3 linked regions of the Homo sapiens genome follow. The protein of the gene in region 1 purifies or fractionates together with the protein of each later gene. This does not show direct contact. Each region holds a gene or a part of one and is shown on either strand. Other genes may lie near its edges.

Evidence for each region. The genes of interacting proteins can lie anywhere in the genome.
Region 2: the proteins of MPPE1 (region 1) and GINM1 purify together in Homo sapiens (affinity purification with mass spectrometry; 2 studies listed by BioGRID and IntAct, with this or other methods). This does not show direct contact.
Region 3: the proteins of MPPE1 (region 1) and UGT8 purify together in Homo sapiens (affinity purification with mass spectrometry; 2 studies listed by BioGRID and IntAct, with this or other methods). This does not show direct contact.

What each region holds. Positions count from the first base shown.
Region 1 is NC_000018.10:11,891,307-11,898,327, forward strand, and holds part of MPPE1 (metallophosphoesterase 1), read right to left. Parts: intron 6,315-7,021; exon of another isoform or gene 6,220-6,314; intron 6,051-6,219; 5' UTR 5,959-6,050; coding exon 5,678-5,958; intron 3,972-5,677; exon of another isoform or gene 3,879-3,971; intron 2,271-3,878; coding exon 2,162-2,270; intron 1-2,161.
Region 2 is NC_000006.12:149,561,937-149,569,380, reverse strand, and holds the start of GINM1 (glycoprotein integral membrane protein 1 precursor), read right to left. Parts: upstream 3,007-7,444; 5' UTR 2,967-3,006; coding exon 2,847-2,966; intron 1-2,846.
Region 3 is NC_000004.12:114,594,234-114,601,812, forward strand, and holds the start of UGT8 (2-hydroxyacylsphingosine 1-beta-galactosyltransferase precursor), read left to right. Parts: upstream 1-4,573; 5' UTR 4,574-4,741; exon of another isoform or gene 4,742-5,642; intron 5,643-7,579. UniProt on the Homo sapiens protein: Catalyzes the transfer of galactose to ceramide, a key enzymatic step in the biosynthesis of galactocerebrosides, which are abundant sphingolipids of the myelin membrane of the central nervous system and peripheral nervous system.

The DNA.
Region 1 (7,021 bases):
TACTAAAAATACAAAAATTAGCTGGGTGTGGTGGCGGGTGCCTGTAATCCCAACTACTCGAGGAGGCTGAGGCAGGAGAATCACTTGAACCAGGGAGGCAGAGGTTGTAGTAAGCTGAGATCACGCCACTGCACTCCAGACTTGGTGACAGAGCAAGACACCAGCTGAAAAAAATAAAAAAATATAAAGTTAGAGTAACATAAAATCAGAATAACAGACATAGAAAAACATAAAATGTTGCCCTTAATTTGGAAAAGCAACATATCTATCCAACCTCATTTTGTAACTAGTTGTTTTTACATATAACATTTCCACTATCTCACATTTAATTATAGCCTAGATAATAACAAACATTGCAACTCTGTAAACTGGTTCCTATCAACTCTGAAACAAGACTTCTCTTGTGCAGCTATTGAATTGTCCTAGGAAATGCCAGTAAGGTTTTTTGGATTTTTGTTGTGGGGTTTTTTTTGTTTTGTTTTGTTTTTGTTTGGGTTGTTTGTCTTCCTTGATTTTTATCTTGATTTTTTGAGACAGCGTCTCACTCTGTCACCCAGGATGGAATGCAGTGGTGCACAGCTGACTGTGGCCTTGACCTCCCAGGCTCAAGCGATCCTCCCACTTCAGCCTCCTGAGTAGCGGCGTGCACCATCACGCCTGGCTGATTTTTGTATTTTTTGTAGAAACAGCACTAAGTTGCCCAGGCTGGTTTTGAATTCCTGGGCTCAAACGATCCTCCTGCCTTGGACTAGGTCTGGCGCAGCGGCTCACGCCTATAATCCCAGCACTTTGGGAGGCCAAGGTGGGCAGATTGCCTGAGCTCAGGAGTTCGAGACCAGCCTGGGCAACACAGTGAAACCCCATCTCTACTAAAATACAAAAAATTATCAGGGCATGGTGGTGTGTGCCTGTAATCTCAGCTACTCGAGAGGTTGAGGAGGGAGAATCGCTTGAACCCAGAAGGCGGAGGTTGCAGTGAGCCAAAATCACACCACTGCACTGCAGCCTGGGTGACAGAGTGAGACTCCATCCCCCATAGCACCAAAAAGAAAAAAAAAAAAAAAAGAAAAAGAAAAAGAAAGGGCAGGCACGGTGGCTCATGCCCGTAATCCCAGCACATTGGGAGGCCGAGGTGGGCAGATCACCTGAGGTCAGGAGTTTGAGACCAGCCTGACCAACATGGAGAAACCCTGTCCCTACTAAAAATACAAAATTAGCCGGGCGTGGTGACACAGGAAATGCCTGTAATCCTAGCACACAGGAGGCTGAGGCAGGACAATCGCTTGAACCTGGGAGGCAGAGGTTGCAGTGAGCTGAGATTGCGCCATTGCACTCCAGCCTGGGCAACGAGTGAAACTCCATCTCAAAAAAAAAAAAAAAATCCTCCTGCCTTGGCCTTCCAAAGTGCTGGTACTACGGGCATGTGATGAAGTTTTTTATACTATACCCCAAATTGAAGATTTTCCAAAAACCATTAGTGACTGAACATTTTTAAGCAGCAAGAACAGCTCATGTCTTCATTCGTTTTGTTCCAAGGATATAATAAGCAAAACACTGTGACAACTAAGGTGAGAACAGCTTTTCTCTTTGGTTTGTGGAAAGTCTTATATTACCCCAATACCCAGGCAGGGGTCTCAGCCCCCTCTGAAAGCAGAGGATCCTCACATCAAGTCCCCAGCGCTCCTTCTGCATCTCTCATTCAGAAAAAAGAAAATCAGAGGAGAATAGCAAGTCTCTTTTGCAGCACGATTCTCATAATGTCATGGTTCAATAAGAGTGTGAAATTAAATGTACATTTCAATATGTATTTTGCAATTTCGGTGACAACTGAAATAACATCTATCTTGCCCGTTTCTCCCTTTCCCAAGAGGTTCACAAAACAGTGTATTCCAACTAAATGATATCTGGCTAATCGACATATTTCCTACATAGACAAATGTTTACAATTAGCCAACCTAACTCAAGATTGAGTTGTTCTAATAATCTTAGATAGCCTATGAATTCTAATCATCTTCCAAATAGCCTACGCATTTTTAATATCAGTAGTAAGTACAACTTCCATAAAATCTCCAGCTCAAGCTGACACTGATTCGTGGATTCTCTGGGATACTTGTGCTGGACCTCACAGCAGGATGAGGGCACCTGGAACACAGAGTCCTACCTCAGGGGTGCTCCACTTCCCTTCATCAAAGATATCCCCCAGGATGAAGACGACTTCCGGCTGCAGCAACCACAGAGCTGTCTGGAACGCTCTCTCCATCTGCCATTCCCTTGATGCCAATAGGAAAAAGTAAGGCATCAGTCTCTTTCCTAGGTGGAGGCTACTTCTGTATTATGCACCATTTAAACAGCAAACTAAATGGTTCCACTCTCCTTCTTCCAGAGCCCCACTCTTGCATTCCCATCCCTGGCTTGAAGGGCCAAAGAGTCCATATCTGATTAAAGGTGGGGAATTAAGTATCAGAGAAGAGTCCGGCCATCCCTTCCACACACCCCAGACACTGTGGTGTGCAGGAACAGGCCCCACTCTGCACCCTGCAGCCATCACTCGGTCAAGACAGCAACTGGGATCTGAGAGAGCCTAATGCAGCTTCCAAAGATGCTCAATGTAGACTGATTTTGTACCACACAGAGGAGATTATTGTATCTAGCTTAATTTTAGCTTCTTATTAAAGGGACTTCAACTTCCTTCTTTGCTTCCAAGTTGGAGGGGAGATGACAAGAGAAATAGGCTAGCTAATATCAAAACAGGAACCAATATCAAAACAGGAAATCCTGGAGATTTCAGACATGCGAGTAATCCTCCCAGAGGTAAGACAAGCAAATGAAAAGAGCCTGGAGGCTGGGTATGGTGGCTCATGCCTGTAATCCCAGCACTTTGGGAGGCCGAGGTGGGCAGATCATAAAGTTAGGAGTTCAAGAGCAGCCTGGCCAATATCATGAAACCCTGTCTCTACTAAAAATACAAAAAACCAGCCATGCATGGTGGCATGCGCCTGTGGTACCAGCTACTTGGGAGGCTGAGGCAGGAGAATTGCTTGAACCCAGGAGGCGGAGGTTGCAGTAAGCTGAGATCATGACACTGCACTCACTCCAGCCTGGGTGACAGAGCGAGACTCCATCTCAAAAAAAAAAAAAAAAAAAAAAAACAGCCTGGGATCTGCAATCTGACAGATGATGGCTTAACATCCCAGCTCAATCCATTGAAAAGCTGTGAGGCTTTGAAAAAATTGCCTATTCTGATGCCCAGTGTCTTCATTGGTAAATGGCGATTTTATTTTATTTTATTTATTTATTTTTTGAGATGCAGTTTCGCTCTTGTTGCCCAGGCTGGAGTACAATGGTGTGATCTCGGCTCAATGCGACCTCTGCCTCCCCGTTTCAAATGATTCTTCCGCCTCAGCCTCCCAAGTAGCTGGGATTACAGGCATGTGCCACCACACCCAGCTAATTTTGTATATTTAGTAGAGACGGGGTTTCTCCATGTTGGTCAGGCTGGTCTCGAACTCCTGACCTCTGGTGATCCACCCGCCTCAGCCTCCCAAAAGTGCTGGGATTACAGGCATGAGCCACCACACCCGGCCGGCCGGTAAATGGGGATTTTAAACCCTACTTGCACAGGATAGTTACAGGGTTAAATAAGACAGCATTTGTAAAGCATGGCACAGGCACACAGCAGGTGCTCAAAAATGTCAGTGTTTGCTCAGCCCTCCCCGTCTTCAACCTAACCAAATCCAGCCTATGTCATTTTTCTAAGGAATCCAAACCTTTCCTCCTTTTTAAGGCATTTTCCTGGCTGCTCCTCCTCTACAAAAGGGAAATGCTATGTCCTGGGATATATAAATAGGGGAAAGTAGGCTGGGTGCAGTGACTCACACCTGTAATTTCAATGCTTTGGGAGGCCAAGGAGGGAGGATCACTTGAGGCCAGGAGTTCAAAACCAGCATGGGCAACACAGCAAAACTCCATCTCTACAAAAAAGTAAAAATTAGCTGGGCGTAGTGGCACAAGCCTGTTGTCCTAGCTACTTGGGAGACTGCAGTGAGCTATGATCCTACTACTGCCCTCCAGCCTGGGCAACAGAGCTAGACCCCATTTTAATCAGTCAATGTAATTTCTGGTCAGAGGAAGATTTTTAGATCCCAAGTGAACTGAATGGTACACATCACCCCTGAAAGGCTTTTTACCCAAGATCTCTCTCAAAATACATTTCTCCGTTTTTCTTATTTTATTTTACTTTTTTTTTTTTAGAGACAGGCTCTTGCTCTGTCGCCCAGGCTGGACTGCAGTGCCATGGTCATAGCTCACTGGAGGCTCAAACTCTGGTGCTCAAAGTAGCTCAAGCGATCCTCCTGCCTCAGCCTGCTGAGTCACTAGGACTACAAGCGGGCATAAAGAGCAAAAATTAGCTATTTTTGGTTTTTGTTTATTGTTTTTTTGTAGAAATGAGGTCTTGCCACGTTGCCCAGGCTGGTCTCAAATTCCTGGCCTCAAGCAGTTCTTCACCTCCACCTCCTAAAGTGCTGGGATTACAGGCGTGAAGCACTGCACCCAGCTTCTCAGTCTCTCTTGATTTAATGTTATTCACCATGGGAAGTAAAAATCTAGAAACAGCAGCAGGAAGAAGGTACAGAAGGCTACTTGGCGAGACCAGACATCAATCAGGATCAATTTGTAAGACCAAGACACTGCAGGCCCCCCACCGGCCCTTCTTGAGCTCATGCCTCCTTTGGTTAAAACTCTTAGTAAAAAGGTATAGCTGCTCTTTCATTATTCTTATTCTTTATTCTTTTTTTTTTTTTTTTTTTTTTTTGAGATGGAATCTTGCTCTGTTGCCCAGGCTGGAGTGCAGTGGTGCAATCTCAGCTCACTGCAACCTCTGCCTCCCAGGTTTAAGCGATTCTCCTGCCTCTGCCTCCGGAGTAGCTGAGATTACAGGCGCCCGCCATCATGCTCAGCTAATTTTTCTATTTTTAGTAGAGATGGAGTTGCACCATGTTGGCCAGGCTGGTCTTGAACTCCTGACCTCAGGTGATCCACCTGCCTTGGCCTCCCAAAGTGCTGGGATTACAGGCGTGAGCCAGTGCACCTGGCCTAAAAATAATTTGTTTAAAAAGCTTCCTGGTGAAAAAAACAATGGACCATGCAGGGGCAGGTGTGAGTTGGAAAGATAGGACCTGATCCTTCCCCAGGGTGACAGCCACAAATCTGCTCTGCTCCTCTGCTGCCTAGAGGAGGCTGAAACCCAATAGGCTCAAAGTTACACAGCAATGAAGGTGAGATGGGACCACCAACCCACATCTGTGTCCTCCCCTGCCCAGGGGACCAGTCCCAGGCACCAGGCATTGTGTAGCATCTTGTTGTCATTGCGTGGCACATCTTGTGATGTTTCTTGTCTTAATCCAGTTACAAACAAGGAGGCAGGGGCTCAGAGGGGCCCTAACAACTTGTCCAAAGTCACAAAGCGATGTGGCCCAGATCTGACTCCCAAATTATGGGGCCCTGTATATATCCTCAGTAAATGGTAAATTCAAGGAAAAGTCAAATGTCCCTAAATGTCCTCCTTTGAGAGGAAAATAACTAAGAGTAACCTAAAGCCATAAGCCTTGCCTATGAGGAGAGGGCTATACCGTTTTGCCTACAGAATTTTAGAAAGATTCCTGATTTTACCTCTTACCTTCGTAATTTGTCCAGCCAGTGGCCTAGGAATTCCCCAAGCAAATGGGTGTCAGCCAAAAACATGGCTTTGAGCACAGGCTCACGTGTGGTCTGTTCACCATCAGAGGCTGTGGTTTTCACTTCAGGCCAATTACACTGAAAGATCGCTAAGTAATAGATTAAAAATTCACAAAATAGAAGCACAGCAAAGACAACAGCTATGAGTTTCAACAGCAATGAACTCTTCCTCTTTAATGGATGAAAATTCTGTCTTCCAAACCCCAATTCGATCATCGCCATTTCTCAAGCAACAACAAATCCATCAAGGGTTCACCACGAGAAAACTGCAGAGCCCTGGGGAGGGTGATGGCATTCAGGTCTTAGCTGGGCACCTACGGGAAAAGGAAAAGAATTCAGTTATGTTCCCTAATAATACAGGTATCACGACCTCCCTCTATTAAGAACTAATGAGTTACATAATCCTATCTACATTTCCAAATTAATCGTCTTATACTTTTACAATAATAATATGCCAGATTACTAATAAGGAAAACAACTGACCTCTCTGACTCCTTCAAGCTCTCCATACCTCCGTATGTCAGAATAAAGCTATTAGAATGCTTTTCTCACCAAGATGATAAAGTTTCATTAATATTCTAGAAATCATCAAATGGGAATCCATGAGAATGATGTGTGTCAAGGTAGGAGACATAATGGGAAAATTCAGTATTATTTAAGTGTAATTTTGACTCCCAGGATTCCCCACCACCCCTCCTTGACCTTAAAAATCAACAGGTCACAAGCCGCCTGTAATGTGTTGCTTTTGGTGTTAATTCATCACTTTTCTACTCTGCTTTTCCACAAAATAAGTGAATATTCATGGACAATGTGCTTCAAAGATCCAAGGAATTCATTCCACATTGGACCCAGAGGCCAGGATCTGACAGTGAAACCACCTTTGCAAAATTATAACAGTAACAGAAATCTGACATAGTTGACTCCATCTTGTTTCTGACTGCCAAGATGTCCTTGGTCATTCCTGGATATAGGCCAAGCTAACTTTGGGAGAAATTTGGTTTATAGGTTTTTGTTTGTTTGTTTTGTTTTGTTTTGTTTTGTTTTTGAAATGGGGTCTCCCCTGTCACCCAGGCTGGAGTGCAGTGGTGTGATCTGGGCTCACTGCAACCTCCGCCTCCTGGGTTCAAGTGATTCTCATGCCTCGGCCTCCCAAGTAGCTGGGATTGCAGGCACTCGTCACCACGTCCAGCTAATTTTTGTATTTTTTTTAGCAGAGACGGTTTTTCGCCATGTTGGCCAGGCTAGTCTCAAACTCCTGACCTCAAATGAACCACCTGCCTCAACC
Region 2 (7,444 bases), on another chromosome or scaffold:
TGGGGGACAGAGCGAGACTTCACGTCAAAAAAAAAAAAAAAAAGTGACCGGGCGCAGTGGCTCACACCTGTAATCCCAGCACTTTGGAAGGCTGAGGCGGGTGGATCACTTGAGGTCAGGAGTTCGAGACCAACCTAGCCAACATGGTGAAACCCCATCTCTACTAAAAATATAAAAAAATTAGCTGGGCGCAGTGGCGGGAGCCTGTAATCCCAGCTACTTGGGAAGCTGAGGCAGGAGAATCACTTGAACCTGAACCCAGGAGGCAGAAGTTGCAGTGAGCCGAGATCATGCCAGTGCACTCCAGCCTGGGAGACAGAGTGAGACTCTCTCTCAAAAATAAAAAACAAAAAATAAAAAAATAAAAATAAAAATACAAAAACTAGCCAGGTGTGGTGGCACGCGCCAGTAGTACCAGCTACTCAGGAGGCTGAGATAGGAGAATCACTTGAACCTGGGAGGCAGAGGCTGCAGTGAGCCGAGATCATGCCACTGCACTCCAGCCTGTGTGAGACAGAGCGAGATATTCCGTCTCAAAAAAAAAAAGACTTTTATTTTTCAATCTTATGTGCAATCTTGTATTACCTCAACTTCTGACAACTGCATACATAAAAACAGAAAAATGCTTATAGTCCAATAAATCTGAGTCATCGGAAGAAGGCAGAATTTTCCTGACTTCAACCAGTTTAATTTATATCAGACTGGAAACGAGGATGGACAGATGTGATAAAGCTAGTAATGTTAAGGGTAGTCTGGTTCTGCACTGTTCAATATGGTACACACTAATCACTTGTGACTATTTACATTTACATTGATTAAAATTAAATAAAAATTTAAAAACAGTTCCTCACTGGCACTGGCCACATTTCAAGTGCTCAGTGGCCACAGCAGTCTAGTGGCTACCCACAAGGTGAGAAAAGACATAACCATCAAGGCAGAAAGTTCTACTGGACAGCACTTACACAATATGTGGGACCACTGTGAAATTCTTTCCTATTGGAAATGTTTCACAATAAGACGTTGAGAAGACTTAGATCAAGGGACTTCAGTTTCCCACAGACACAGTCCAGGTAATGAGATTCTCTTTCTAGTTGTTCAGCACTCATTTAATCTGTGAAACTTTTTGTTGTTGAGACAGGCTCTTGCTATGTTAACCAGGCTTATCATCCAACACCCAACTCTTGGTCTCAGGCAATCCTCTGGCTTTGGATTCCCAGTAGCTGGGATTACAGGCGTGAGCCACTGCACCCAGCGTAATATGTGAATTTCCGAGTTTAGATCTGGACTTTCTGAAAGTGAAATGAAGGCCCAAGAAGGGAGAACTGAAATAGTAAAATCATCACTAAGAGCCAGCCGACAATGCAGTGTATTTTAAGCCTGCAGTCAAAATGTATTTTTCGCAGATTATATAGACGTAAACATCTCATTGACACATAGGTGTCAATTATGAATCTTTAAAACTTGAAAAATAGGAAAATAATGTCCGTATTTCCAGAACTTTTTAGAACTATTTCACTTTTATTTGGTCCCTTGGTGCCTGTCCATCACATTCCTATTGTTTAACCAGATGCAACTGTGGTCCACATATAATTTCAGATATAGGTGGTTCTTATGGCAGGCAATGTCGTGGCTTCTTGGAATGCCCTGCAGAACTGAGACATGCTCATCATTTTTGTACCCACGTGGGGTAATGTCATTATCCTAAAACGTTAACACTTGGTTTTTTTGTTTTTGTTTGTTTGTTTTGTTTTGAGCTCCCTCACCCAGGCTGGAATGCAGTGGCACGATCTCGGCTCACTGCAACCTCTGCCTCCCGGGTTCAAGCAATTCTCCTGTCTCCGCCTCCCGAGTAGCTGGGACTACAGGCACCTGCAACCACGCCCAGCTAATTTTTCTATTTTTAGTAGAGACGGGGTTTCACCTTGTTGGTCAAAGTGACACTTACCGTGCCCTTCGCCTTTGTATTTAGAGTGTTCATATTCAAGTCTTGACTAGGAAGAGGTGTACCGACATAGTTTCTTGTCATTCTCAGAACACTTGCTCTTTAAAATATTCAAACTTTTCCCTACCATTCTACTGAAAAAAGGCTGATACTGGCCTAGGTAGGCACGACTCTACGGCAGGAATGGTGAGCATCAGCCACGTTTTAATGTTAGGATGCCTCGATTCTCCCACCTCAGCTGGCATCAGAAGCACCTGCAGGACTCTCCAACCCGGACTGCTGGGCCCCGCCCCCAGAGGCCGGGCTGAGTCCCCAGGGGATGCGGACACCGCCGATCGCGCCCCGCCGTGAGAACTTCTCCTCCAACATCCGACAAAAACATTACGTCGCGCGAGGGCCAGGTCTCTCCCTCTGCCCACCTGAGCCCGGCGGAGCCCCGCAGCCTCGGAACGGCGGACCCTCGCGATCGCAGGCCGAGCAGGCACAAGTGGCCTGGAAATGCGCGAAGTGGGCAACTTCCACACTTCCCGAGCACACAAACATTCCTTGCCCAAGCGCTGGCTCTACCCCGGGAAGGCGCCATTACGAAGGCCTGATCACCGGCAACCGCGCGCTTCGACGGCAAAGCCCCGTCAGGTCGCGCGCCGGCTTGGGCCGCCGGAGAGTCGGTGTGGAGTGGCTCGAGGCTCACTCACAGCGACGCAGCCCCAGTGGGTCCCTTTCCTCTTACCTCGGCCTCCCACGCCGCCCCCATTTCCTGGGGTGCTTCTCCCCACACCTCCTTCGGGGGCCCGGACCCCCGCCCCTGCCCGCCGGTGGGATGTGGGAAGCGTCACTGTGGACAGCCCGGGCCTCCCGGAGAGTCGGAGTCGTAAAGCGGCCAGCCAGGCCCGCCCTGCCCTACCTGTGGGGCTCCGGACAGCGGCGGCGGCTCGGGGGCGCCCGTCGTCAGCCAGCCGGAGGCGGGTAGCGCCACGAACAGCAGGAGCCGGAGGGCGAGCGACCCCGGTGGAGCGCCCTCCATCTTGGACAACCCGGGCAGAGGGCAGCCGCGGCCGGGAGGTGAGGGCGGAGCCGGCCCGCGGGCGGGACGGAGCTTCGGCGGGAGGGACGGGGAGGGGCGGGGAGAGACGGGGAGGGGCGGGACGGGCCCTCCCCTCCCCGGGCGGCCGCGGAGAGGCGCGGGGACGCTCCGAGATCCGGCTCGCCAGGGAAAGGCGTTTGCGCACGCGCAGCGCCGCGCGGCGTCGAGGGGCGGAGTGAAATCTTGGAAGGTACGGCCCCTCATTAGACCCGCCCTCAGGATTGGACAGGACTCCAACTGGAGCGATGTAAATGTCCTCGTAACCATTATTTTTAAAATTAGTATTTACACACATGCATGTGTCTGTGTGTGCACATGTACATGTACCTATACGATGAAAACAACGGTAATATTTCAGAAAACTGTTATACATTAAAAATGAAACATCGCATTTACAGGGGAAGTTTTTATTAAGTGGGTAATTCCCCACCCTTGGCTGCACGTGGGACTCTCCCGGGCAGCTTTAAAAAGTACTGGGGTCTTCCTGAACACCCCACTTTCCAGCCTGGGCTGCGGCTCGGGCCCTGGTGGTTTTTTAATTTTCTCGGGTGATTCATTGTGGGGCCAAGGTTGAGGATGCGCCATGCTTACTGTTCAGCATTCTGCCGACCCCTGGAGGCGGCGCGGGGACAGCGCTCAGCTGGAAGGAAGCCAGCGCACCTGGGCTGTCAGTGCCTTTTTGGTCAGTATCGTAACTCTAAAGTGAAAGTGTTAGACTTTTCTTCCACCTTGCAGATTTAAAAAAAAAAAAAAGTTACGGAACCCTGTAAAGCAGAGTAGCAAGAAATTCAAGCATTTTAGATTAACAGGATTGCATGTTGATTGAGAAAAACTTGGAAACTTGGCCATTCAGGCAGAATAAGAGTAATATTTAGTCTTCCTTTGAAATAAAACTTTTGACATGAAATAAAACTTTTGACATGAAAAAGGAAACAAGAATCTATTTCTCTCTTTGAGCCCCCTTTACTCCTTTGAACACCCTCCTCCCACAGGCCTGCTGACCGCCACCGCCCCCTCCCCCGGCCCCGCCCCAGAATAAATTATAAACGTTTTGGCTAAAGACTCCTTTCAACTAACTCCGGGCTTACTCTGAGATTCCCCACGCCATTGTTAAGCTACAAGTGATTTCACAGCGAAGCCCCACACACTTCTGGGTTCCATCTGCAAACTTGGCCTTTTCCTTTTTTTCCTACTGCTGGAATTAAAAATGAATTTGGAGATGGGCGTGGTCATTTGTGCCTGTACTCCCAGCTATGCAGCAAACGCAGGCAGGAGGATCGCCTGAGTCTATTAAAAAAAAAAAAAAAAAAAGGAATCTAGAAGCCGGGTGCAGTGGCTCACGCCTGTAATCCCAACACTTTAGGAGGCCGAGGCGGGTGGATCACTTGAGGTCAGGAGTTCGAGAATAGCCTGGCCAACATGGTGAAACCCCATCTCTACTAAAAATACAAAAATTATCCAGGCATACTGGCACGCACCTGTAATTCCAGCTACTAGGGAGGCTGAGGCAGGAGAATCGCTTGAACCCAGGAGGCGAAGGTTGCAGTGAGCCAAGATCGCGCCATTGCACTCCAGCCTGCGCGGTGGAGCGAGACTCCGTCTCCAAAAAAAAAAAAAAGAATCTGGAAGTCAGAAAACATGACATGTGGATCTGTATAATTTGAATTAGTAATATAAGGTTACAAAGTACGTCTATATGAAAAGATAATAGGTAAAGTTGAGGCTCTCTGTTTTCTTACAAAGCCTTTCCCATGGTCTAACTGTCCATTATTCTTTATTGTTTATCTGTCTCGTCAGATAGATGTGAGCTCCAGGAAGAGGGTGGCCAAACCTTAAAGCAAACAGCTTGCTAGAGTAAGCCCTCAGTGGGGGTTTGTTGGACAAATAATGTCTAAGTGGTTGACAGTATTATTTAATAATCAAAAATTTTACTGTTTTGTATGAAATGGTTCTCTTTAGGCCATTGTTTTGCTACATGCACCCATGAGCGCTACGGAATTTCATTTAAAAAACCCCATCATTTGGGGAAAAAGCACCATACCACAACTCTAATGAGTTACAACAAAACTTTAAACAAGCTTTGTGGCTGAGTTCCACTTGTCCATTGGAAAACTCAGCTTGGTTTACTGAGCCTTCACATTAATCTGAGAAACAAAAGACAGAATTAACTTGGCAGTTGCTTACACGACAAATAAATCTGTCAATGTTAATACGGTGAGTACTTTGATGTTCCTTTGAGTCAGCTCATGTCAACTTGATATCCTCTATCATAAAAAGAGTTCAAGTTGCCTGACAGCAACCCACTGCGGTTCTGTGCACATTAGATGCTTTCTCTTCTTTGAAGGTAATCTTTCATATAGGAGAAGATATTCTAAAATATTTCTAATACTACAGAAAACAAAGTATATATTAAAATGTCTTTATTCTTTCACCAGATAATACCTTTTGATTCCAAACCTTGATATATTTCCTTTTTCAGTAGCCGATTTCATTGTCATTTTCATCATTCCCACAATCAAAATTTGAGTCCATCTTTTTCTGCAATTTAAAGCAGGCTTGATGCCAAAAGGAAATCTGGGACCTGATTTGTATCTGTTTCCAGTTTCTGGGAGTGAGTGAGTCACTGCACTTCTATTACAACACAGTCTACTCCAGTATTTTCCAGAGTTAGTCATCTACATATTTTTGAACTTTTTGAAAGACCCCTAGAAGATGACAAGAGGGAGAGCAAGAAACAAAGATATTATATTTTATTTTTTTGAGACAGGGTCTTGCTTTGACACCCAGGCTGGAGTGCCATGGCAAGATAGATCATGGCTCACTGCAGCCTTGACCTCCTGAGCTGAAGCCATCTTCCTACCTCAGACTCCTGAGTAGCTGGGACTGTAGGCACATGCCCCCATGCCCTGCTAATTTTTTTTTTTAAGTGAAGACGAGGGCTTGCTAGCTTGCCCAGGTTGGTCTTGAATTCCTGAGCTGAAGCAATCCTCCTGCCTCGGCCTTCCAAAATGTTGGGATTACAGGCATGAGCCACTTTTTTTTTTTTTTTTTTTTTTTGAGACAAGAGTTTCATTCTTGTCACCAAGGCTAGGGTGCAATGGCACAATCTCAGCTCACGCAACCTCCTCCTCCCAGGTTCAAGCGATTCTCCTGCCTCAACCTCCCAAGTAGCTGGGATAACAGGTGCCCACCACCACGCCCAGCTAATTTTTGTATTTTTAATAGAGACGGAGTTTCACCACGTTGGCCAGGCTGGTCTCAAACTCCTGAACTCAGGTGATCCACCTGCCTCGGCCTCCCAAAGTGCTGGGATTACAGTCATGAGCCACTGTGCCTGGCCTAAAATATTTTAAAACTGCTTTTGCTGTAACTTTCTTGTCCATATATTTATGAATGAATTTAATTAGCTCATAATGATGGGTGATGCCTCTCATATGAAGAACAACTCATAGAAATATTATCATTGTAGTAGCCAGCATTTATTATGCTAATTGTGTTAAGTGCTTTATGTATATTATTTAAACCTTATAACAGCCTAATGACATGATTACAATTTATTATCCCATTTTTATATACAAAACAGAAATTTATAGAAATTAAGTGTTTTTCTCTGAGTTACAGAACAGTAAATGATGAAGCTGTGGTTTTAAACTCTGGCATTCTAAGCCAACACAGTATAATGAAACAAAAGGCATTTAGTTAATTTATATACATTTATAGAGATGATTATAAATTATTCTACTCATTAGCTTTCTAAAAATATGAGCTGGGTTGCACTTTGGGAGGTGGAGGCAGGCGGATCACCTGAGGTCGGGAGTTCGAGGCCAGCCGGGAGTTCAAGAAACCCCGTCTCTATTAACAACACAAAAATTAGCTGGGCGTGGTGGCGCATGCCTGTAATCCCAGGTACTCAGGAGGCTGGGGCGGGAGAATTGCTTGAACCCGGGAGGCAGAGGTTGCGGTGAGCCGAGATCGCGCCATTGCACTCCAGCCTGGGCAACAAGAGTGAAACTTCGTCTTAAAAAAAAAAAAAAAAAATATATATATATATATATATATATATATATATATATATATATATATATATATATAAGCTGTGTTGGGAGAAATGGAGAAACAGTAAAGTGTAAGAGAGCTATGCCTTCTCCACCATCACAGGAGCTAGAGGGGCTCCAGGGCCAAGATGCAGACCCTGCTCTCTGCTCCCTCAGCTAACTAGTTTCAACAACCTGAAAATCTGCAGAGACGTTTGTACTCAAGGATGCTAAAAATCATACTATAATTTAATATTTGGTACCCTAATAAAAATCCTGAAGATAAAAGATTAAAGGGCCGGGCGCGGTGGCTCACCCCTGTAATCCCAGAACTTTGGGAGGCTGAGGCAGGCGGATCACGAGGTCAGGAGGTCGAGACCATGC
Region 3 (7,579 bases), on another chromosome or scaffold:
GCATTAAATCTATAAGAGCCTGAGGCTTTTCTGTATAGGAGGGAGTATGTTGTCTCCTATTTCAGAGATCAGTAGTAGAGAAGGGCTGATAAATGAAGAGCCATTCTCCCCCTTGGACTTCATTCTGTGCATTCAAATAAATTTGTCCCCATGTTTATCGGAGGGACATCTGCATTGCTTGGGCATGACCTGACCTAAGATAGCCAACCTCATCCCCCTGGAATTCCTCCCTTGGGTTTTCAGGTAAGGGCTCTGACTTCTGTCTGCGTGGTGTTGCCTGAGGGATGCTTTCTTCTGAGTCTGAGCCTCCAGAGGCAGCCAGGGCAGCCTCCTGTCTAAGCCTTGCCAAGGATGGATAAATTGGTGCATAGGGGGTAGAGTTTCTAACTCTTCAGATGGGGCCTGTAGGACAGGTTTTTTCTGCTTTTCCTGTGACTCTTTTTCTTTTTCTGATGACTTGCAGTCTCTTTCTATTGTTCCTGGTTTTGTCCAAGCCATTAAAGTCTTATGGTAGGTCTCAAAGCAGGTCTGCAGCCACTTAGGGCGGGTCTGAATTACACTTAGCTGGGAGTCTGTATACGGGAACTGATCTGGGTGCCTGGGCTATTCTCCAAGCCCAGTGACCACCTGAAACACTTGGCCAATTATCTCCTTGTGTATTGTCCCCTCGGCCAGCCACCCTACATTAAAAGACAGCCGGTTTATCTCACAAAAGGTTCTCAGTTTCTGTGGAGTTAGCTTAACCATTTAATCACCATTTAAACCTTTTGTAAAAGTTTTTCAGCATGCACTCCAGTGGAGTAGGCTTTGATGCTTTTCCTCCCATTTCTTCCCTCACGGCATGCTTTCACTGTCACTTTCACTCTTGGATCCACCAGACCAGGTCCTATTATGGGAGGTTCGGATGCTGCTTAGCCAGGAGAGTGCCTTCATTCCTGTTACAGCTAGCTGCAGCCATGGTGGATGCTGCTTAGCCAGGAGAGTACCTTAATTCCTGTTACAGCTAGCTGCAGCCATACAGCTGGTCCTATGGGCTGTATGCAGTGTTCTAGGTCTGGTTTTTCCCACACTCGCCTCAGAGCACACAGTGCATGCTAAGAGATCTGTGCCTCCCCATGTCACACCCCGCATTGGTCTCTCCTGAGACTGTCTCACACACCTCCCCCGTCCCTGAAACTGTTTTCCTTTCTGACTGACGTGCGAGCCCCACCTGCATCTGGTGTCGGTTAGGGCGTGAGTTTTGTCTGAATCAATGGGCCTCTCCCATTGTCCCAACCCCCTCGGGTCAGATCAGTCATCATGCCCTGGGAGATGATCAGGCTCCCCTTCCGTCCTTATGGGACGGGTCTTGCCTTAGGGCCCAAACTTTACCGTGGTTCAGATGGCTGTGCGCTGCTCCCGTGACCATCCTGCAACCCCTTCCACTGGTTCCATTTGTGCTGTCGGGGGAAGGCCCCAGAACGCGGGAGGGCAGTTCTCCTTCTGGGCTGAAACTCTCCTGGTGGTGCCAAGGACCCCAGATCTCCCATGTCCTGGGGCTGTAGCCCACAGGCAAAGGAGACAGAAAATGTTCCCTCTCCAATCCCGGATGAGCCCCCAGAAATGTTACAAGACAATCAAAGACTGGAGAGACTGAAAAAGGTTCAGGAGAGTCTATTAAGGTGATCACCGGCCCAGCCGGACATATGTCCAGAAAGTATGAGCCCCAAACTAAGGGCTTTTCCTACTTTTAAACATTTTAAGGCAGGAACTACATGAGGTGGGAAGCAAGTTACAGAAGCGAGAAACAAAGGCAGTTAATCAAGCATTACAACATTTCTTACATCTTGAGAAAAACATGTCTTGCAACCTAAACTTATTGGTCTTGTGACTGCAGCTGTGCAGGAGCTTGCTGGCCTGTAATAAACTTGAGTAATTTGGAGTTGGGGAGTATAGATAAGGTCCACTGTCCACAGAGACAGGACAGGCTGTTAACATTCTCCTTTAACTTGAGTGTAAGGGGGCAGGGATCACACTTTGCAGAAACTTTAAGAGGATTTTAAAATTTCTATTACTACTACTATTAAGTTACGTTTGATTTCATTAATTTCTTCTTCAAATTCTAGGAAGTCTGATCCCAGAGTTAATGGTGAATGATTACAAAACTTATATAATATCTCACATATGGTTGTTTATATTTTCCAATAAAGTTATATGGGGTGAATAATTATAACAAGTATTTCTGAAAAAAATAACAATTGAGAATACTGATATATATAGTCCACAGAAATAATGAGGGAATTTTAATACCATACTCCACATTGGCTGAAACTTTCTCACTGCAGGCTATGCTGTCCCATTCAACATTCTATAAACTAAAGATGATAGGGAGAATCTTGTTTAATCTGAATGGGAGCTTGAAGGATACATTAAATATGGAAAATATGCATCCTTCCTTAAAGAGAAGTAGCAAATGTTTTCATTATTCATTTATTCAACCACTTAGCCAATAATGTTAACAATTAAAGGTGGGAGCATTAAAAAAAGGAAAAGTGGGGTGGGGCGGTGAAATGAACCTCACTGATTTCTTGCTTTTATCATTTCAAACTCCAAAAGTGTATTTCAACTATTCATATGATGATTGAATAAACTTGTTTTACATTATGGAACACCCTTACTGTGTAGAGCTGTGAGAAATTCAATAATCAGTATTTAATGTGGACAAAAATAGATAGATTAGAGAAACAATAAACATGGACATATCTACACATAATATATACTCCTTTTCTATCCAAAAATCTGACAAAAACCTTACACAATGGTCAGTTTACACCATTTTAAGGACAAGGATGTGGTGAAACAATTTTAAACATTTTTATATAATAAAAGAAAAAAGTTGTTTTAATTGCTAATGATCAAGTTTTTACCAAGAATTTACATATGCATCATCAAACAGTAGCTTGAAACTGAAGCTTGACCTTTGAGAAATAAAGCTTTTAAAGTAAATGTCTAAATTCTCTTTTCTTTATTATGTTACATTTCATTTACTTTAGGTTTTCTAGTGCAATTTAAATAAGAAATAAATAGAGAGTATGGTAATCAGGTACAAAGGCTGTGAAAATATTCCCTGCATTTTGCACAGGGAATATGTTCAAATTCCTAATCTGCAAAGAAGAAAAGTGCATTTTCTTTTTTGAAATGGCATTTGAAGATCTCTCCATCCATGAACATTCTTGAGCATATGGATTTTACAATAACAGCAGTGTATATTAGTTTTTTAATTTATCATTAACTGATAACATATACAGTAAAATATAATTTCCGTTTTCTTATCTAAGGGCAGAAAATCCCAACCTATTTCTGAATCTCACTTTGGAACAAGGACAGAATGACCTGACATGGCATTTTTGATTTCCAACGTTTAAACGCATAACGTTTGTGTGCTATGGAAGCATCTTAGCTTCTGGAATTTATGCTCGACACGAAACATAAACAATAAACAATTCAGTCCACGTTATATAGACATATCTCATATATATATGAGATATATATATATAAAATATCTTACGCACATGCACACTTAGACTTTCTCGGTTTTCATGAAACTCACAATCTACCTCAGGCGCTCAAAGGCACTCGGCCTCTCAGGTCTGAGGCACCACAGAGAGGCTTCCTTGGGCACAGTTGCTTGCTGGTCAAGACGCCAACTTGGCAAGGTTATGCTGCTGGCAAAGGCAGATTCGTCAGAATAAAGTCGCCACAGGCTCAACCAGGCAAATCATGAATGGCCCTTTCAGCAGGAGCCTGAGAGGAGGGATGTTATTCAGCCCAGCAACCCTATTTACTTTTTTTCAGGATCCCCAAACTCGCGTTTTTTAAGGCTTTCCGCTACAAGAGAGCCAGAATTGAAGCCTGGGTTGGCGGCAGTGCAGGTACCTGCTCACCTAAGCATCCCTCTTTTAATTTTCCTAACTCCTCCACCCACTTGCCCAAGTATAACTTTTGAATGGATTCAGCAGAAGTGAGGCAGGAAAGGCAGGAAGATGAGAAAAGGCGCGACATCAACACGCAGAGCTCACTGAGCCGCCTTGATGATAAAAGGCGGGCACAGGGACTACGTGGGTGGTGGCAGAAAGGGCGCGGGACACGCCTCGCAAAGAGGGAAGAGTGGGCGGGGCCACGTGCCGTTGTCAGAGTTCGCAACTCGAGCGCCCAGAGGGCTCGCGAAAAGTCCCAGCCTGCAAGCCAACCTCGCTCAGCGGACGACTGGCCGGATCCCAACGCGCTGCCCCTTGCCCAGCCTGCGAGCGCGTGGTACGAAGGCGCGTCTGCATCCATGCCCCAGCCCGGGGAGCTGGAGGCGCTCGCAGTCAGAGGCGAGTGATGCTAGGCTGAGCGCGTGGCGGCCCGTGTCGTGCCCCGCTGAGCCAAGTGCGGAAGGGCAGCGGCGCGCTCCGACTCTGCTCGCCGCACGCAGGGCGGGGCGCGGCTGGGGGGCGGGGGGCCTGGCCGCCCGCTGGGAGCTGCGGACGAGCAGGCGCGCTGAGGACCCGAGGGAGGACACGGTTAAAGCATTGCTATCAACTGTGAACCCAGAGAGCCCTCCTTAGCCAACACGCTAACTCCGAAGCCTCCCTTACGCCCCCGAACCACCGAAGGCGGCGACACCTGATTCAGCGCACAAACACAGGTCCCTTCTGTCCCGGATACAATTACGCGGCAGACACACACTCAAACTCGCGCGGGGCAGCCAAGAGACGAGGTGAGCGGAGGGACCACGCCGTTCCAGAGGGCGGAAGGGGGGGCGGTCTGGGTGGAGGAGAGGGGCGTTGTTTGCTCCCTGAGGTGAGTGCCGGGCGAATGGCTGCTGTCCAGGGGCGGGGGGGTGGGAATTAGAAAGCACAGACAGGGTTGGGCTGAGGAAGTTAGAAGTGGTTAGTGGGGGTTGGCGGGGTAGGGAGAAAGGCTAGGGGTTGAGGGGGTGTGAAGGAGATCTTTTTAGGCTGGCCCCTCATAGCGCCCGCGATCCTGTTTCTGCCATATGGCATCCGTTCGAGGGTTCTCTCGCGTTTGTGCGCTCAAGGCAGAGGGAGGGTATAACGGGGAGGCGATTCGGCCGAGGACCTTGTACTTGACCCCTGAAGGGATGGGCACCGCGGAGCCCAGAGGCCAGAGCCAGCTGCCAGGGCAGGGATGGAGGTGGGGGACCAGGAGGAGCTTCGGGACCTCTTCAACTCCCCTTTACTCCGTCTTCCCCCTAAGGAGGAACAAGAGCGGGATGTGTTGGGGGTGGGGAATGTCTTGGGGCTGTACAAGCTCGCTGAGACTTTTCGGGGCCCGCCGTTTCCGCGTGCCCGCGCGACTCTCGACAATGGACAGTGTACAGTGGTGGCAGGGTTTCACGGGTCCCCGCGCCGATTTGGGAATGGTACGGGGTGCCCTTGCATTAGAGAAGCCTGTGCGGGCCCCCGGGATTAGAGAAGAGGTGAGCGCCTGCGGGCGGGGAGAGAAGGACGCGCTGCTGGCAAAAAGAAGGGCGCCTTCCATGGACTGGAGGAGCGGCGAGGGAGCCTGGTATGTGTGTTTTGGATTTGAAGGAGGCAAACCGCATCGGAGAGTGCAAGTAGATGCAGTGCGTCGGGGCAAAAGGACAATCTGAGGAGGTGGGCGGGGTACCCAATCTCTATATACAAGCTTTCTGGTTTAATTGAGGGTTTATAAAATTGAGTACGGTAAACCTGCCATTGTGCAGCACTTCCTTAGGAAAGGAATAGCCTCTGTACCTGTACCGCGAGTTCCCATCACCTTTCAGCATCTAGGCGGGGAGAGGAGAGAAGGTAGAGAACTTCTGAGAGAGTTCTGAGAACTAACGCGAATGGCTGGATTGCGCTAACTAGGCGTTCTTAGCAGGAAAATGTCGCCAAGGGAAGGAGTGGGTGGCGGTATCAAACCAGGCGTGCTCTGGAGAATCACCTTTATTATGAGCCAGTGTTAGCAGTGACGATAGAGTCTTTTATTTCTGGGGATCCTATTGGTAAAAATTAGAAAAAAACCACACTACTCCAAATACTCCAAAAATCTTCAGTCCCCTCAGGCTGTCACCTTGTACTACCAGTTTTTCAGTATCAATGACGTGAATGTTAGGGAGTTTGGCTAGATGCCAAATTGTTATCATTTCTGATAATTTCATGTTCAAAAACGTCTATATTCACTCAAAATTGGCGTGCTTCTGACATATCCCCAGAAAAAAATCACCACCATTTGAAGGAAGGATAGAAAGTGCCCTTTTTTCTTTTCTTTTTTAAAAACTTTTATTTTAGGTTTTGGGGTACATGTGAAGGGTTGTTACATAGGTAAACACATGTCACAGGGGTTTGTTTTACATATTATTTCATCACTCAGTTATTAAGCCCAGTACCCAATGGTTATCTTTAACCAATATTTTAATAGTGTTAAGAGTAACCATACTTTGTCCCCAGGAGATTTTAAAATTAGAGTCATGCATCTTAATATTATATGGTAAAGGAGACCAGAACTTTGTGTTACTTGAATTAAATCTTAGCCAGCTTAGTTTTCTCCTATAGAAACTGTCTCTTGGTGGTTTGAGGTTTTGCTTTAGGAATGTGTCTGTGTTCAGCAACTCTTCTAGATAATGCCAGAGAAAAACACTCTAGTATTGTATGATTTGCCTGCCACCTACAAGGTTAAGTTGACATCTAGTGTTGTGTGACTTAGTATTATACAAGTCTTTAAAAACTACAATAAAGCATAGTGCCCCGATATTTAGTAAAGGCTTGATACTCTATTAGGAGGTTGGGCATAACTGAACAGAAACTATACTTCTGACTTTTTCCAGGTAATACTACTATACAGGTTCAAACTCTTTTTAAATCTAAGATTTCCAGAGGACTATGCTTGTTGTATTTAAGCTTGGTACGCGTCTTAGAATAAATAAACCAATGCAGTAAATAAAGATGCTTATGACAATTTTTTTGGATAAAAACTACTTTTCGTTTAAAGATTTTGACAGTTTACATTTCCCAATAATTTAAATTAAAACATTTTATTGCACCTTATGAACAACTATCAGCTTCATTACCATTTAAATATTGCTAAAAATCCCATCTTCAATCCTCAAATCCTTTTTAAAATCATGCACCTGTTTATCAAATAATATCAATTTGTTGCTTTTTAATTCATACTAGGATTTTCCAACATACACCTGGGAATTTCTAAGATATCCTTGGAGAGTGAGAACTTTGATTATTTATGCAAGATATAGTATCTCATTTATTTGACCTCATCTGCATTGGTACTTATTTACATAAGCACATTTTCTCGGTAGCTGACTCTTCACACCGTTTATTACTGAAACTTAAAAAAAAAGAGCCATTATAACCCACAAGCAATTTCTAAATCTTACTGTCTTCCTTGTTCCCTTGGAGAATATTGGATATAAGTTATTCTTTCTTGTTGGGTTGTCTTTATGAATTCATAAAGAATTGAATAGTGCTATTCGCTGAGGTGTATAGAGCTGTTTTTGTTTATAGTAAATGGTCTCAGCCTGCTGGGTTGAAATACTAGAATAGAGACAGAAGTA